Homo sapiens: one gene and its partner. The protein of the gene in region 1 interacts with the protein of each later gene in a biochemical or structural test. Each region holds a gene or a part of one and is shown on either strand. Other genes may lie near its edges. The genes, in order: TAL1 and KAT2B.

Region 1 (3,820 bases):
GATTCCCTGGACTGGTTGGTCGGGGACAGGAGGTAATTCCCAGCCATTGACCCCCATTTCTCTCTCTCCCTCCCTCTTGCCCTGCCTCTTTCTCTCCACCCCTATCTTTCCTGGAAACTCGCTTTGGGCGCGGCAGATCGCCCAGGACCACACCGCAGCGTAACTGCAGGCCTCTCAGCGAAAAAGGGGGAAAGCAAAGACCCGGGTGTGCATCCTCTTCCTCGGCTTCCGCCCCTTTCCGGCGGAGTGGAGATCCTATTCAGAGGGGCCGGTCTCTCTAAATATGCCCCAGGTGAGTTTTCAGGGGAATGGTGCCGGTGGAAACGGTGTCTAGGAAGGCCTTGTGTTCCGGCCTGGGGTGAGGAAGGCTCAGGACAGAGGAGAGCCCATTCTCAGATTGGGGGTGGGGGGAGGGGAGGACCAGCCAGAGCTTGGAATCGGGATCTGACTGCTGTAGCTGCCTCTGTGGCATTCAGCGGCTTTTTCCCTTTTCCACCCAGGGTAAAACCAGCTAGTTGGACTTAGTCGTCCAGGCCTTTCCCATTGGTCCCGGTTCTGTGGACGTTTCCCAAGGCCGGTAACTTTGGGGCGGCTGTATCCGGGTGGTACAGACTGTGCCTGGAGCTCCCGCAGGAGGAAGGCGGCAGCCTTCCTGGCTAGTGCAGTCCCAGCTCGAGTGGGCCCTGATCCCAGGCCTGAGGCCTAGGGTGGGGAGGCAGGAACACCCCTCTTCTCCGGTAGAGGCGAGGATGGTGGTGCTGTTCCCTGGTGGGTTTGGTACTTGTGCAGGCTTGGGGCTTCTCCAGGGTGTTGTGCTGGTGTGGGCCCAGAAGAGAGACCAGAGGCTGGGTCTAAGGGCCTGAGGCTGTTTTCATCTAAGAAATTCTCTGTATGGGGGATTGGGTCTGCTTGAGACCTGTCCCCAGGAAGAATCTCCTGGGGTCTTCTGTCTTGTTCTGGCACAGGTGGAAATATTCTGGCTGTCTGGCAACTGCAGATGAGGATTTCCTGTTGGGGGCTATAAGCAGGGTCTCCGTAGTACAAAGAGAGAGGAGCTGTAGTCGTCAAATACTCTAGAACGATTCAGTCTAAAATCTCCCTCCTCCTTCATTCTCCCCAAATAAAAACAAACAAAATCTCTCGGGCGTTCCTTTCTGTAATCCAAATCAAGTGATGCAGCTTAGTCGCCAACAACCATCAGTGTTTGTGAGTGGCTTCTTTGGGGCATGGACCTCTGGCTGGTAATCCTAAACCGGCAGGATTTTCCTAAAATGTGGGGAGGAGCCGGGAGAGGTCCTCCACAGATCCTGGGATCCAATCATATATTTCTTACAAGGAACCTTGGCGATGGGATATTTATAGGTGTCTGGAGAGGACATTTGTGGCCAGGGTCAATTCATCTGGAATATGTACTCCCATTGCCTCTCAGGAATCCACCGCTAGAGCAGGAGCCTAAGAATTAATTGGAGGGTAAAAATGTGTCATAACAGAGCTTGAGCTCAGTCTGCAACTGCAGTGCACACTGTCACTCGGTTAGAAGCTGGGGCTTAAGCATGGATCACTGGGCTCACACCGGTGTGTCAGGACGGAGAGCAGTGAGGTAGGGAACCAATACCTTGAAGCTTGTATGTTTCCCAGGGGTTGGTATATTTCTGGCACATTTCGCTGCTGCTGGGAGCAAGAGGACCTGGCTGATATACTTCTGGTGCATTTCCAGTGGCCTTGGTGTCTTGGTGGTTGCATTCTATGGATAGAGACCTATTGTCTCCACCAAAATCATAAACTCACTTCCAATGAAGTGTCAGGGACCTACTGCCTTTACAGCTTGTATACACCAGGACTTAGGGAATTTTGTGGTTTCTGTGCCAGACCTGGGGGGCTGGCATTCCCAAAGAAGGTGTACAGCAGTCTGAATCTTGACTCTCTGTCATCCTGGGTGTCTAGTGGCAATTGAGCCAAGCTCCAGAGGAGGCTGCAGATGATCCATTCTCCCTTCTGGGGTGGGAGGGATGGTTCCTAGGATGACTCCTGTCCAGAGCATTGCAGTGGCAGTATGGGAGCTCAATGGCTGCTATGTATGATTTAGATGGACTCTGCATGGGGGTAAATTGTTTTTTTGTATTTGTTTTCTTCTTTTAAATACCCAATTATATAATTCAGAGAGCAGAAAGCTTATTTTAAACAACTTATGTGGTGTTGATCATATATGTACAACTCACAACTCACAAACTCTGGCCCTTGAGTCTCCTGATTTTTCTGTTTTGGTTCTTGCTGGTGCCCAGCTCTATCTGGATGAAGCCAGGTGATGGAAGAGCCCCAGCACACCTGTGGGAAGTAGAGTGGCTGTGGTCATCTCGGAGTATGCTTGTGGGGTCACAAGGTGGTTTCACTGCTCTGGGAATACAGGAGGGTTGAGCAAAGTGAGATTATTGCTCTGGTCTGGCTCTCTCACAGATAGGCTGTGAGTGACTTGACATTCGGCCAGGCAGTTTTCTCACTGGCCCATTCTCCTTGTTAATAATGTTTACTTGAACGTTTGCACAGCACTTTCAAATGCATAAAGGAGGTATTCCTCCCATTTCCCAAAGAACACCAAGGCAGGAGATGGCGGTGAGGGGGGCTGGAAGAGTTCAAGGGCCTCATGACATCCTGTCCTGCTCTTGGATGGGAGTCCAGACCCCACTGGCCTCAGGGAACCCTTCAAATGCCCAGCTCCATTCTACCTCAGCCAGGCCTCTCTTTGAGACTCGACCTCACTTCAGAGTCCAGCTGAGCAGAACGAGGTGGACTGTGCAGGGAGGTTGGGCCAGCACCATCTTCTTCCCTTGGCGACCTCTCATCTCTGTCTGAGTGGGAGTAAAGATCCGCTGGGCGGGCAGAGGACTCACAGTGGATTTGCTCAGTGTAGACAGACACTCCCTCACTCCCCAGCGGGGGCGAATGTGTGTGTGTGTGTGTGTGGAGGGAGCTGGTTCCTCGGGATTATTCTCTGCCAGCTCTGGCGGAGTGGATCCCAGTCCCCGTAGCCTCCACTTTCTAATTCCCTACTTCCATCCGCACCGGGTTTCTGGGTGTGTGCCTGTAGGTGGGCTGGGAATATTGCTGAGAGGCCAAGGGAGGTTCCTAAAGCAACGAACCCCTGCCTGACAGATTCCCCGCTAAAACCAAAGAGCACGATCCGGAATTTGTTCCCTCCTCTTCCCTTTAGGCCTGAGAAAGGGGACAGAGTAATCTCTTTCTTGCCTCCTTGTACATTTCCTTCCTCCTGATTTCCCCTTCTGTGTTTCTGTCGCTGGCTGTATTCCTTTTCTTCCGGTGTCTCTGTCGTCTTCCTCCATCTCTGTCCTTTTGGCCCTCAGTCTCTGTGTCTCCCAGGCACCCCTCCCTTCTCCCAATCCAGAGACCCTCTTTCCCTCCCACCCTAGCCCCAACCGGCCTCCCGCCCTAGCCCCACGTGGCGCTAACTTTGTCTGCCTCTTCTCACGTCTCGGTGCGTGAGTTCCTCTCTCTGCCCTTCTCCCCTTTACCCCAGCCCACGTCGGTGGGTCAGGGGCGGTCGTCAGAGCGGGCATCCGCTTGTCTGTCTGTCTGCCCACAGGATGACCGAGCGGCCGCCGAGCGAGGCGGCTCGCAGTGACCCCCAGCTAGAGGGACGGGACGCGGCCGAGGCCAGCATGGCCCCCCCGCACCTGGTCCTGCTGAACGGCGTCGCCAAGGAGACGAGCCGCGCGGCCGCAGCGGAGCCCCCAGTCATCGAACTGGGCGCGCGCGGAGGCCCGGGGGGCGGCCCTGCCGGTGGGGGCGGCGCCGCGAGAGACTT
Region 2 (3,550 bases), on another chromosome or scaffold:
ATTTTCCACAGATAAAAGGAAGCCACATTCTCCAATATCCATTTTACTAGTATTAAAGGTAATACTTTGGCCATCATATGCCTTTTTTTTTTTTTTTTAACTTCTCAGTTGGTTTAGATTTCAGTAGGGAAGAGGGGTTCTCTTGGTTGGGTCCTCTCAAACCCCAAAAGGATATAGTATTCTTTCCTACAGACATCATTTTGAATCACATTAGAAGCTCATATGGGAGATGTTTAAAAATCGGCTGTATTTTTCTCTCATCATATATATTTCACAGATGCAAAGTATAAAAACAAAAATCTTTTAATTTCTAAACCAACAACACTCTTCTTTCAATGAATCTTTTTTGTTATTGTTTAGCGGGTGAGTGGGTAAGATGCAGTGGATAACTCAAAAGACAGAGTAAGTGTCTCTCCTGAAAATCTCTTACTGATGACCTATGGATTTTTTATGAAACCTCCCCCAAATGCAACAGAATGCTTAAGATCTAAGGTTTAAGGATTCAATTGATGGTTATCAACCAGATCATAATTTGTTCTGTTAACCTCAGCCTACTGAATGAATAAAACACACCACAAGATTGGAAGCTTTTTAAAATATAATTTAAAACTATTTTGTACCAGTACAATATATTAATTTTACAAATGTAAAATTTTTATCAGCTGTTAAAGCATTTGCAAAAACCACACATTCTACTTCAGCTTTATTGCACAATATCTATAAGAAAATATTAATTTTTAAATTAGAAAACATAAAAATGCTTTCAATATAGAAGAGACAATCTGATTTTAAAGACAATACTCTATAAGAATGTCTACTCAGAAAATAACAAACTTTCACAGGATACCAGCTGGACAGATGCTTCAGCAGATCCGGTACAAAGCACTGTTTAAAACCAGTCCAAGATACTTAATCCAAACTGTATCATGATTCTTCATTAGAAATCTAGACACCACTCATGGTGGTTTCTTACACTTTAAAAAGTTGAGGCATTTTCAGTGTGAGCATTCTGAATATCTCTTACATATCAAAAACAATACTTCCAACTCAATAGCCATTTGCAGGGTTCTTTTTCCTTCATGCAGATTATCACTGGCAACTGTTTTTAATGACTATTCATGACCATTTTATTTATGCTGATAGAAAACATCAAGTTAAATACGCTTTTAAAACTTTGTCCTTTACAAAAATCAGTGTATAAATTTGCATCATAAAAATTAGTGTTGAGACCATCAAGATGGCCTTCATTTATATGGTTGTATATTAGTTGGTTTTCCCAGAGTTGGGAATGGCAGATGTCTCACTTTTCTATGTAGTGTAATCAGGAAATAAATCCAAGCACTAAACTGGAATCCCAAGACAGATTAATAAGGTTGCATGATGGATTTTAGGGGGTTATGACCCTGGACGCATATACTAATGTGGGTGTTAAAATACTGACAGCAAACCCTGGTGGGAATTTAATTTACCTCAGACAATAAACATTATCTGGAGAGACATAAAGGAAAATGTTCATTTGCATATTATCAGCGTGGCTGTGTGTATCATAGAAAAGAAAAAGAACCTTTATTAGAACGAGGATTCACCAGATTGATACATATATAGACCATACATCTTTTCCTATTAAAGCATGTTGATTCAATCTCATGTGTTTTCAAGTTTATGCCTTTGTGGGCAGGGAAATTATCTTTTGGAACTTATGGCCTGCATAAGCAAAGTCAAATATGATATTACACATTTGTGTAGAGAAAATAATTATTAAAATAGTGGTTATGTACTAACAAGTTTGTTGTAAGTAGACAGAATTATCAAAAACCTAGATGCTTATTTTAAAAGTTTGCATTATTTAGAATTTCTTCCTTAGGAACCAAAGCAGTTGCTTTCCTGGAACTGCATTTTTCAGAACTGCTCAAAGCACCTCATCTAGATGAGTGTTTTAAAAAATATATATAAAAAGTCTATAAAGAGACTTCAAACATCACATATTTCACCTCTTACAGGCTTTTTTAAAATCATGTATCCCTTCCTTAAAGTCCTTCAGAATAAAATAAAAGTAAACTCTCACATTCCATTAGAAAAAAATGGAAACATTCATTCATGGTCTGAAAATGTTATGGATTTCCCCAAATTTTGCTACTGTGTGCAATTTCCTCACACACAGGTTTTGAGGAAACCCCTAATCATCTATCATGAAATAGCTAATGGACATGCCATAGAAAATTTACCTTAATAGTAGTAAATAGATTAAAATCTATTCCATAAAATAAAAATGTCCTATGACTTCAATTTAAATACATATCTGAAAAGCTAAAAGGAGGTTTTTTGTTTTTTCAAAAGTGCTAATTATTACATTTACAAGTCTCTTCAATACATCATGTCCAATTCTTTGTAAAAAACTAAACCACCTTGCTTTAGGCACACTGCTTGGTGAGTTTCTAAGAAGCAGAGGGGAAAAAAAATCACTTGTCAATTAATCCAGCTTCCTTAATTTTACTGAAGAAGAATTTCTCCAGGATATTGGCACATTTGTAGTATTCACTCTCAGGGGGGTTGTACTCTTTGCAATTGGTAAAGACTCGCTGTAAGTCTGCCATGAATAATTTCTTAGACACGTAGTACCTATTCTTGAGGCGTTCACTCATGGTTTTCAGATCTGCACAGGAAAAAAAAATATTAGCAATCTTTGACTCCCTTTAAACACCAGCTGACAAAACTGGGACTGGGAAAGGAATCTATGTTGTTGGTTTGATTACATTTTTATCATCCCAATGCTTTTATTTAAGAGAAATTCTTATGACCAAGGAAAACAGTTCTTAAATCTTAAGTTCATTCTTTTGTGGGTTTTTTAAAAATGTAAAATCACAGCCATTTTAGCATTAAAGGGACCATTATTAGTCATCTGGTTCAATCCCCTATTCAGCACAAGGAAGCTAAGTAGATTAGCAACAATAAGTATGATGAACTGACTACTGTTAGCTATTCAGTCAGAATTATACAGAAGAGGCTCTATCTATATGGAGTAGAGCAGGTGGAACGTTTGTATTCAATCATTTAATTACTTAAAACAATCAGACTGCATTTGTTTCACTAAACTCACAGTTGTTTTGGTGTCATATAGAGAAACTGATAATAAATACATCTGTGAACACACCAGTGCCCTTGCATGTAAAATGATTCAAATGAATTTGCTTCAAGCTCCATCAATGAAATAAGAATAACAAACTTCATTTAATAATCTATTTTCTAAAGCAAGTAAGCCTTGTGAGACTATTGCAAAGAATATTTCCCAATATAGCTACTTGCTTTAAATTGTAGTATTTTACAGGTGAAAACAGTACTCCATCTAAACTGATAAAACTAAAGTAGGGTTTCTTCAATCCTCACTGTCAGGACTAATTTAAGGAATTCTATGCAGATTAGAATAGACGCTAACATTTGTCTATTTATGGTTCCCTGGTTGTCTTGAAGTCTGGCTTTATTGTTAAAAGCTATAATTGTATTAACTATGTGTGGAAAAATAAGTCAAATGGGAAAAAAAAAACCCCACTTC

What was found.
Region 2: the proteins of TAL1 (region 1) and KAT2B form a complex in vitro, tested with the Homo sapiens proteins (one study listed by BioGRID).

The regions. Positions count from the first base shown.
Region 1 is NC_000001.11:47,225,668-47,229,487, reverse strand, and holds part of TAL1 (T-cell acute lymphocytic leukemia protein 1), read left to right. Parts: intron 1-136; 5' UTR 137-292; intron 293-3,598; 5' UTR 3,599-3,599; coding exon 3,600-3,820. UniProt on the Homo sapiens protein: Implicated in the genesis of hemopoietic malignancies. It may play an important role in hemopoietic differentiation. Serves as a positive regulator of erythroid differentiation.
Region 2 is NC_000003.12:20,151,435-20,154,984, reverse strand, and holds the end of KAT2B (histone acetyltransferase KAT2B), read right to left. Parts: intron 2,654-3,550; coding exon 2,460-2,653; 3' UTR 581-2,459; downstream 1-580. UniProt on the Homo sapiens protein: Functions as a histone acetyltransferase (HAT) to promote transcriptional activation. Has significant histone acetyltransferase activity with core histones (H3 and H4), and also with nucleosome core particles.